3 linked regions of the Homo sapiens genome follow. The protein of the gene in region 3 purifies or fractionates together with the protein of the main gene of each other region. This does not show direct contact. Each region holds a gene or a part of one and is shown on either strand. Other genes may lie near its edges.

Region 1 (3,653 bases), on a different chromosome or scaffold from region 3:
AGTAGTTTCATGATAAAGGGTGTATGAGAGATCAACCCTTTATCATGAAACGCTTGAGGATACGCTCCAGAAAGATTAGAAAGCAAAGCGAGAAATAAATAGGGGATCTAACCCAGGAAAGAGATGAAGAAGTTTTCAGAATAATAGCTTCACAAATAGAGATTTTTCATCTGGATAAGAGGAGGAGAGTTCCAGAAAGAAAATCCTCTGGGAAAAAAACAGATTGAATAGAATAGCAATTGTAAATTAAACCATTTGAAATTGATGTTTTGTTGATTAAAAAAAAAATTGCTTGCTGAGCACAGTGGCTCATACCTGTAAGCCCAGCACTTTGGAATTGGCCAAAGTGGACAGGTTCGCTTCGAGATTCTGAGCCCAGGAGTTTGAGACCAGCCTGGGCAATATGGCAAAACCCCATCTCTACAAAAAATACAAAAAAACAATTAGCCAGTGCATGCCTGTAGTCCCAGCTGCTTGGGAGGCTGAGGTCGAAGGATCACTTGAGCCTGGGAGATGGAGGTTGCAGTGAGCTGAGATTGTACCACTGTACTCCAGCCTGGACAACAGAGTGAGATACTGTCTCAAAAATCAAAAAACAAAAGACAATTCTAGTAACATAATTTGCAACATTCATAATAGCTATATTCATAGCATGTTTGCTATTTGCCAAATGTAGTTTTTTTTTTTGTTTTTTTTTGAGATGGAGTCTCGCTCTGTTGCCCAGGCTGGAGTGCAGTGGCACGATCTTGGCTTGCTGCAAGCTCCGCCTCCTGGGTTCACGCCGTTCTCCTGCCTCAGCCTCCCGAGTAGCTGGGACTACAGGTGCCCGCCACCACGCCTGGCTAATTTTTTTGTGTTTTTAGTAGAGATGGGGTTTCACCATGTTAGCCAGGGTGGTCTCGATCTCCTGACCTCGTGATCTGCCCATCTTGGCCTCCCAAAGTGCTGGGATTACAGGCGTGAGCCGCCGCGCCTGGCCTGCCAAATGTAGTTCTATGTCTTGGATCTGTATTGTTTCATTTAATCCTCACAACAATCAGGAGGTAGGTAGTATTATTTTCTCCTTTTTAAGATTGATTAAAAACTGGGACAAGGTGGGCACTGTGGCTCATGCCTGTAATGCCAATACTCTGGGAGGCCGAGGCAGGTGGATCACTTAAGGTCAGGAGATCAAGACCATCCTGGCTAACATGGTGAAACCCCGTCTGTACTAAAAATACAAAAAATAATTAGCCAGGAGTGGTGGCGGGCACCTATAGTCCCAGCTACTCGGGAGGCTGAGGCAGGAGAATGGCATGAACCCAGTAGGCGGAGCTTGCAGTGAGTCGAGATCATGCCACTGCACTCCAGCCTGGGCGACAGGGCGAGACTCTGTCTCAAAAAAAAAAAAAAAAAAATTAGCCAGGTGTGGTGGCACGTGCCTGTAATCCCAGCTACTTGGGAGGCTGAAGCAGGGAGGATTGCTTGAACCTGGAAGGCAGAGGTTGCAGTGAGCTGAGATCGTACCACTGCACCCCAGCCTGGGTGACAGAGCGAGACTCTGTCTCAAAAAAAAAAAAAAAAAGCCAAAGAAAAAACCTGGCACAAAAGGAAGGTTAAGTTAGGGTTAGGTTGCCCAAGGTCATGCCGTTGGAGCTGCAATTTGAAGCCAGGCAGCCTAATATCAGAGCATAGGCTCTTAACTCTTCTGTTATATAGGCGGGAAATTGTAGGATACTTTCTTGTAGAGTCTGACTAATCCAAGCAAAAAGACCTGCGGTACTGACAGGTTACTGAACAGTTATGGCCCCTGTGCACAAGCCCTACCTACCCACTCAGCCTGTCCCATCAGCTCTTTTTGAAGAAACTTTAAAATATATCATGAATATTGGTAGAGAAATAGAGATGATAATCTGTTGGGGAAATGAGTAGAATACCATAAACAGGAGTATTCAGAGGATAGGGCTCTTGGAAATTAAGAGTGTAATGGCAGAAGTGAAAACTAGGCAGATTGGAGGATGAAGTTGAGGCTATCAGGAAATTAGAGCATGAAGGCAGGAGGTGGAAAATACAGAAAAAATGATTAGATGCTTCAGCTCTAAATAATAGACATTTTCAGGCCAGGCACAGTGGTTCATGGGCGGCTGAGGTGGGTGGATCACTTGAGGCCAGGAGTTCGAGACCAGCCTAGCTAACATGGTGAAACCCATCTCTACTAAAAATTCAAAAGTTATCTGGGTGTGGTGGTGCATGCCTGTAGTCCCAGCTACTTGGGAGGCTGAGGCAGGAGAATTGCTTGAACCTGGGAGGTGGAGGTTGCAGTGAGCTGAGATCGTGCCACTGCACTCCAGCCTGGGTGAGAGAGGGAGACTCTGTCTCAAAAAAATAAATAAATAATAGACATTTCAAAAGAACAGATAAAATGGGAGGCAGAAAATCATCAATGAAAGAACTCAAGGACATTTTCTAGAACTGAATGTTACAAGTTTCCAGACTGAAAGGACCTGCTTGCCCTGTGCTCAGCATGATGGATAGAAACAAAGCTGCACTAGAGGACAGCACTGTGAAATTTCAGAACACTGCGGACAAAGAGAAGACCTTACATGCTTCAAGACAGGAAAAAAATGACATTCAAAAGCTCCGGAATTAGAAGTGGCTTTGGATTTCATGCTATTAACATTGGAATCTAGAAGTAATGCCTTTGAAGTTGTGAGAGAAGATGATTTTCAACATAGTCTGGAGATAAACTATATTGGGCAGTTTGGGAGAAGGTAGTCAAAGGGTATGAGGGCTAATCTTTATAGATCATAAAGTCAATGGGCACTGTTATAGTTGGATAAATTAAGAAATGGCATTATAAGCACATAATGTAGAGTTATGGTAGAAACTACCAGAAGAAATAGCTGAAAAAGTTAAAAGTGGTTGGATGGAAGGGATGATGAGTGGAATATGATTGATGGCTGTTGGTTTTCATTAAGGGCCTTTTTTACCCTGTGATGTTCTAGATCTATATATATGAATTAGTTGAATAAGAAATTTTAGGCCAGGCGCAGTGGCTCACGCCTGTAATCCCAGCACTTTGGGAAGCTGAGGCAGGCGGATCACAAGGTCAGGAGATGAAGACCATCTAACATGATGAAACCCCGTCTCTACTAAAAATACAAAAAATTAGGCAGGTGTGGTGGCAGGCACCTGTAATCCCAGCTACTCGGGAGGCTGAGGCAGAAGAATGGTGTGAACCTGGGAGGCGGAGCTTGCAGTGAGCTGAGATCGCGCCAATGCACTCCAGCCTGGGCAACAGAGTGAGACTCCCGTCTCAAAAAAAAAAAAAAGAAATTTTAATAAAAACCTAAAATTGGATGCCTTATGTTACTTCATTAGGGTTATGGAAGGATCAGTGGAATAACTGATATGAAAAAGAGGTTTGTAAATTATATTCTATTATTTAGTGGAAAGTTATGATGTTACTATCATGTTGACTAAAAGGCAAAAATGCTGTATTTGGTAGATGATAATATTGTTGTATTAATTAACTGTGGCCACAATAGTGCAATCACAAAACTTGAGTGACATATGATAATGAACACTAATTTTTTGTTTTTGAGACTAGGGTCAGCTTGTTGGCTTGACGATCTGAGCCAGGTTTGGTTGATCTCACTTGGGTTTGCTTATGT
Region 2 (3,653 bases), on a different chromosome or scaffold from region 3:
ATCCCCTATGGATTAGGCATGGACTAGTATATTCTAAAAACATGTTAGTATGTCACAAAATGTTAAAATATACATACATTTTGAAATGTTTTAAGAATACAGTTGGAATGCACAGTAAAAAGGCAGCAAATATTTTCTCCCAATGAATTCATAGCAAACAAGAACACATGTAAGAAAAACTCATCAAGGTCGATATTTTTTTCCCTCTCTTAACAGTATAATATTCATGAAAACTGAATTTCTTCCAGGTCTTTTAAAATTATCCTTATTGTATTAGAAATGGTCCAGTCAACTTTAAGGAATGTTCATTTTAAAACAGCATTAAAAGTACCAAAATACACAAATACTTTGGGCAAGACTTAAATGCATACTTGATAACAGCAGGCTGGGTGTAACGGCTCATGCCTGTAATCACAGCCCTTTGGGCGGCCAAGGTAGAAGGATGACTTGAACCCAAGAGCTCATGACCAGCTTAGGCAACATACAGAGACCCTGTTTTTTTTTTTTTTTTTTTTTGAGATGAAGTCTTGCTGCTCTTTTGCCAGGCTGGAGTGCAGTGGCGCGATCTTGGATCACTGCAACCTCCACCTCCCGGGTTCAAGCAATTCTCCTGCCTCAGCCTCCTAAGTAGCTGGGACTATAGGCGTGTGTCACCACGTCCAGCTAATTTTTCTATTTTCAGTAGAGACTGGGTTTCACCATATTGGCCAGGATGGTCTCGCCCTCTTGACCTTATGATCCACCTGCCTTGGCCTCCCAAAGTGTTGGGATTATAGGCGTGAGCCACTGCATCCAGCAAGAGACCCTCTTAAAAAAAAAAAAGGTAAAAACAAGGAATTCATCCTTTACCAATGAGTGGTGAATGGATCCTGCAAGTCAGCAGAAGATTTCCATGCTTTCTCTCACTCTACAGATGTTCCTTGACTTACAATGGGGTTACATCTAGATAAACTTATTACCAATTGCTGCCTAGCAGTGCAAGAGAAGTACAGTTTCTACTCAACATCTATTGCTTTCACACCATCGTAAAGTTGAAAAAAATCATAAAGCTGAACCATAGGAAGTTGGGGACCATGTGTACGTGTAGTTTTAGTAGTTTTTCTTAGTACCAGTATCTCCTTAACATAACCACAACCAAAGAATGGGGGAGGCAAAACTTTAATGTAGGGGTCTAAATTCTGCTGATAGGAAGCAACCTTTTCTCTCTCAGGGGTTCACCTTTGTGGAGGTACAAAGTAAGAACTATCAGAACATGAGATTCTGATCTAATCCGCTAAGGGTCCTTGGCCCAAATCTGGCTTGCAGACAGGTCTGACTTACACAGGGTTTAAAAATAGTTTTTTTTTTTTTTGGCTGGGCTTGGTGGCTAATGCCTCTAATCCCACCACTTTGGGAGGTCATGGCGGGTGGATCACTTGAGGTCAGGAGTTCGAGACCAACCTGGCCAACACGGTGAAACTCTTGTCTCTACTAAAAATACAAAAAAAATTAGCCGGAAATTAGCCATGTGGGGTGGCACATAACTGTAATCCCAGCTACTCAGGAGGCTGAGGCATAAGAATCGCTTGAACACAGGAGGCAGACGTTGCAGTGAGGTGAGATGGTGTCATTGTACTCCAGCCTGGGAGACAGAGTGAGACTGTCTCAAAAAAAAAAAAAAATTGTTTTTTTGATACATGTTCTCGCTCTCACTCAGGTTGGAATACAGTGGCACAATCATATCTCACTTTAGCCTTGACCTCCTGGGCTCAAGTTATCCTCCCACCTCAGCCTTCCCAAGGTGCTGGGACTACAGACATGCGCCACATGCCCAGCTAATATTTAAAATTTTTAGTAGAGATGGGATCTCACCATGTTGGCCAGGCTGGTCTTGAACTCTTAGGCTCAAGTGATCCTCCTACCTTGGCATCCCAAAGTGTTTGGATTACAGCATAAGCCACTATGCCTGGCTGGGCTTAAAAATTTTTTAATTTAGTTACACATTTAAAAATCAGAGGGGCCGGGTGCAGTGGCTCACGCCTGTAATCTCAGCACTTTGGGAGGCCGAGGCGGACGGATCACGAGGTCAGGAAATCGAGACCATCCTGCCCAACATGGTGAAACCTTGTCTCTACTAAAAATACAAAAATTAGCCGGGCGTGGTGGTGTGTGCCTGTAGCCCCAGCTACTCGGGAGGCTGAGGCAGGAAAATCGCTTGAACCCAGGAGGTGGAGGCTGCAGTGAGCTGAGATTGCGCCGCTGCACTCCAGCCTGGGTGACAGAGGGAGACTCCATCTCAAAAAACACAAACGCAAAAACAAAAACAGAGGGATTTCTATATAAATCTGGCTTTCCAGAGTCTTTTGAAAACCTGAAAGAGGGCTGGGCGCGGTGGCTCACGCCTGTAATTCTAGCACTTTGGGAGGCCGAGGTGGGCGGATCACAAGGTCAGGAGATCGAGACCATCCTGGCTAACATGGTGAAACCCCGTCTCTACTAAAAATACAAAAAAATTAGCTGGGCATGGTGTCAGGCACCTGTAGTCCCAGCTACTCAGGAGGCTGAGGCAGAAGGATGGCATGAACCTGGGAGGTGGAGCTTGCAGTAAGCCGAGATCGCGCCACTGCACTCCAGCCTGGGTGACAGAGCAAGACTCTGTCTCAAAAAAAAAAAAAAAAAAAAAAGAAAAGAAAACCTGAAAGATATGGTAACAGCTGAGTAGGAATGGCATTCACTCTTCAGCTGACCATATCCCCTTCCTGGCTCTCATTTTAATTTCTCATCTGGCTTCTGTAGCCATCTGAGTTCGCAAACCCTACTTACAAGACCTAAGGAGGAAAAGCACAACGTCAGCTGGTCCGGGTAGCCCCAGTGGCCAAACCCTGGTCCAGCTCTGGGTGTGAGCTAGGCCCCCTCACCTGGAAAGTCAGTGACAGCAGGGTCCGCCAGCCGCCCATAGCGTGCCATTAGTTTGAGCTTGGTCTCCTGTTTTCTGTGTTTCTTGCCCACATAATGTTGTTGAGCCATGACAGGGTCGTTGAAAGTTGCATGGCAGAGGCTGCAGAACTTGTCTGGGTCTATCATCTCTCTATTCTGGTGCAAGGCTAAGGTGGAGGCCACAAGGAAAGGATTTGTAAGGCGTTTTGACAGAGCTGCAGTGAGAGAGTTCAAACAGAAACAATGAAAAAACCCAGAAGGTGTCAGGCTTTTGAGTATGCTGAATAGAAAGGGCTGTGACACCAGTTAATCCTACTGCAGATGTGGCACTGCCTGTGTGAGTCACACAGGTGAATGCATTCTCTAATTGGGAAACCTGGGAAGATTTGAGGGAGCCCAAAGACTGGCTATTTCATTCAGCGGCTTTAACTACTTTAAGCCCACAAATCCTGGTGGTTCTCATATTCTTAGGAGGCCCTGAGCTTCTCCTGTCAGGCTGCCAAGTTACAATAGACTAGAGATGCACACTTGCACTCTTGCAGGGATACCTCAGTACTTCCCAGAACTTCACAGCAAGTGGGACACGAAGTTTGGGAGTTTTATTCTCATCCTTAAAGTAATACAGTTGCAGAGCTGGGAACAAATGCACAGATACAGAAATTGAGGCTTGAGTTCCTGGAGCTCATACAAGGTCATTCAGAAAAGGTAACCATACTAGGGATGCCTTTTAGGCTACA
Region 3 (3,653 bases):
TTTAGTATCTTTCTGGAGAAGGCTTGTAATGATGTGGATGACGATGCTTAAGATGAGATCCTAAAAAGTGACAAAATATGTCAGTCACATCCATTTGTATGTATCAAATAAATGATAGAATTACCTTTATTTGTAGAAAAAGCACGAGACCCTGGCAAATGTTCCTTCCTATGACCATGTCTTTCCTATTCTGAATCTGAATGTACAACCACACTCTTTCTCTCCTTTTCCTGTTTTTCTCTTCCTCTTTGATGTCTTCCCAAACTATAAAATAACAAGAAAAAGAAGACAAGCTCCTTTCCTTAAGCTCACACTTATCCAATCAAACCATAATCCTTTTTTATTTGCTCAAAGAAGTTTAAAAATTATCAAATACTTCTGTTAAAAGGAATTTCTATGAAGGAATATCAGAAAAGCATTTATCTGACAAAAATTTTAGAGGCTATCAAGCTCTCCCATTGTGATAGTTTTTGTTTTTCTTCAAATTATAAGCATACCAAGTTATCAATTATAAGCATACCAATCTATCATTTAAAAAAATCAGAGTTAAAACTATGACTAATTCTCAATGTTTTGTCCACACACTAGTCATCAGACACTTTTTTAAAAAATTTAAGCTAGAAAATAAAGTAAACGAAGTACATAATTTAAAAATCAGCAAGAGGCTGTTTTGAAAATCTAGGTGACAATTTTCTTTTTAAATTTTACTTGATTTAGCAATAAATGAAGTAGGTGGACTTGGGTCATATCATGAAGAAAATTCATAATATTTATTACAGTAATATCTATGTAACAAGAACATAAGTTCCTTAGCAAAATATTATTTCCTATATTGTGATATATGAAAATCTTGATTTAAAAATATTTCAGATATGAGACTACAGATTTTTTTCCCATATGTATTTATGGTTTAAAAGACAAGGAAAAAAGCATGCATTACATAGGGGAAAATGCAAGGAAGGAAAAAAAAAACAAAGGAAGGATAGAGGAAAGGAGAAAAGAAGAGAGGGAAGAATGAAGGAGGGAGGGAGAGAGGATGGAGAAAGGAAACAAGGAAGGAGCAAAGAAAGGGAGAAAAGCGGGGAAGAGGGAGGGAGGGAGAAAAAGAACAATTAAGCATCAACTATGCAATGTATACTACAGGTGCCTGGAATAGAATCTAGTAAGTCGGTACAAACAGGGAGAAAGAATTTCAGATGATGACAATTTCCCTATCTCATAGAAACCTGTACTAGTGTATTTATTTGTTTTCATTTTCCAGCAAGATTTTTCTCTATGTCCACAAGACCTGACAGGATGGCTTAATGCCCTGGCACCCCACTCACTGTGTGCTGAAGAGGGTGGGAGCTCCGGCGTCCGGAACGTCTTGATGGTGGCCGGCCCCTCCCCTCCTGGGGTCAGCACTTGCACTTCCAGTCGGTAAAGAGTAGATGGTCTCAGATTGGGCACTGTTAGGACATAATGATCCTAAGGGGACAACATAAAAGAGCATGCTCACCGACAACCTTTCAGAGACAACATGCAATGCACAGAGAGCCTAGAACAGTTTTTCCCCCACTGGAGAATATCATACACAGGCAAGTTTGGTTGCTTTGTAAAGGCATAGTTTAATTTATAGACTATTTCTCATTTGTGGGGGTTCTCTGCCATATGGTTTCTTAGCACCTCACTCAATTCTTGGCAGCCTAAGACACTTGGCAGAGTTAAAATATGCTGAGGTGCCAGTTCTCAGGGCTCACTCCTGGGATTTTATTTATTTTTTTAATTCCTTAACGTAAAACTTTCCCATGGTTTAAAGTCTTCAGCTGCACATCTTGTGATGTGAACTCTTGATAGTCCAAATTTCAGTGAATGAGCCAACTGTTTTTCTTAAAACACAGTATCTGTCAATGCCCATAACTGAAAATGTTTATTTTTATGCCAACATATTCTTCTCAAAACTCAATAAAACCTAGTACATTTATAGAATAACTACTCTCTAATTCCATGGAATTTTTCCTTCTGAGATTTAAGTTGTGTTTCTTTCCCTCTCTGCCCCTCTTTTTGGATTTTGTAACGGTAGTTGGCTATTCTAAGGGCATTTTCAGAGAGGGTAAAATCCCACACATGATTTTTTTTTTTTTTTTTTGAAGCCAAGGAATTAAGTGGCCTGGAAGACAGGCCAACTCATTACAGCCTCGAGCCAAATTTGAAGTTGCGGGGAAGACGGACAAACAACAAGCTTCTTTTAGCTATTCCTGCCCTCCCCAATTCAACACTTCAAACAGGGCATGTTCACTTGGACCAGAGAGACATGAGGTTAACAAAGATAGAAGAAAATGGCTCAATCACTTATATACAAGATAGGGTAAGGTCTTTTCATGAGTTGGCTCTAGCCATCAAACTTTATCTAGATGGCAGCTTATGCTACTTCTTAGCTATGCAGTCACATTTGTGATGTGTTAATGCTTGCAAAAGATACACTCAGAAGAAGAAAATGCAAAAATAAGACTCAATAGTGCAGCACACAGAATGACAGAGGTAGCCACCTCTGAAGGTCAGTAAAAAGGAGCAGTAGATACCAATGACACAGACATAGTACAAGAGGTGGGACCTACGGAAGGCAGGATCTGGGACTGTGAAATAATGCTGTTGGGTAGGCTGTTCTGTCTGCTTTCCGTAGTGACCTCAGCCCAAGTCACTTGAAACCCAGTCATGGGCTGATAGAGATTGGCCTTGGCCATCTTCCAAGAAAAGTGACCGGTGATGTTCACATCCTGGACGATGAATGAAGCAGAAAGGTTCTCAGGCTTAGCTAGCACCTTAGAAAGAACATGACCTGCAGCAATGCAAGAAGGAAAACCAGGATTAGGCGACTGGAGAAGGTGTGCCCAAGGGATCCATTGTAGGAATTTTCAGCGGCCAGTCTATGGGATGATATTAATAGAAGCAATGTGACCTTGTTCTTTAAACATGGGTTCAGACAATCACCCCTTTGACATATGGGGATAGGTTGAGTAGGAATCTCCTCACTCCAACTTTGTACTAAATGCTTCTTCCAGTCTTTTGGGGATCATTTTTAGAATGCTCTTTTGAAGATGGAGGCAGGAGAGCAGTTTAGACCCTGGCAAGACTTAACTATTTCTTAAAGAATAGCATTGACTGCAGTGAGAAGGTAAATATTAAAGCTGTTAGAAGAGTTATTAAATCCGAAGCTTTTTTTTTTTTTTTTTTTTTTTTTTTTAAAAGGTGAGATCTTGCTATGTTGCCCATGTTGGTCTGGAACTCCAGGGCTCAAGTGATTCTCTCATCTCAGCCTCTCAAAGTACTGGGATTTCAGGCATGAGCCGCCATGCCTGGCCAAATCCAGGGCATTTAAAAGACTTTTTCCCACTGCAAGACAGGGACATTGGCAAGGAGATGGGATGGAAGGTACAGATGTGAGGTTTGCCAGGTTGGCATGGAAAGTGTGTGAGTATAACCCACGCAGCAAAGGGGTGGGAAAATAATGAAATAATTATATCAAACTTTCCCAAAACACAAGCGGTATCTAAATGTTTGCCTTCATTTCCAAAGGGATAACATTACTATCAAAGGACATCTTTCCAAGCCTGTTAGGCTTTAAAATAACACATTCATTCCTACATCTCTTCCCTCCACATTGGGCCATCATA

What was found.
Region 1: the proteins of ANOS1 (region 3) and NMNAT1 purify together in Homo sapiens (affinity purification with mass spectrometry; one large-scale study listed by BioGRID and IntAct). This does not show direct contact.
Region 2: the proteins of ANOS1 (region 3) and ZNF346 purify together in Homo sapiens (affinity purification with mass spectrometry; one large-scale study listed by BioGRID and IntAct). This does not show direct contact.

Annotation. Positions count from the first base shown.
Region 1 is NC_000001.11:9,967,393-9,971,045, forward strand, and holds part of NMNAT1 (nicotinamide/nicotinic acid mononucleotide adenylyltransferase 1), read left to right. Parts: exon of another isoform or gene 1-66; intron 67-3,653.
Region 2 is NC_000005.10:177,050,181-177,053,833, reverse strand, and holds part of ZNF346 (zinc finger protein 346), read right to left. Parts: intron 3,132-3,653; coding exon of another isoform or gene 3,084-3,131; coding exon 2,898-3,083; intron 1-2,897.
Region 3 is NC_000023.11:8,532,994-8,536,646, forward strand, and holds part of ANOS1 (anosmin-1 isoform 1 precursor), read right to left. Parts: intron 2,819-3,653; coding exon 2,598-2,818; intron 1,468-2,597; coding exon 1,326-1,467; intron 61-1,325; coding exon 2-60; 3' UTR 1-1. UniProt on the Homo sapiens protein: Has a dual branch-promoting and guidance activity, which may play an important role in the patterning of mitral and tufted cell collaterals to the olfactory cortex. Chemoattractant for fetal olfactory epithelial cells.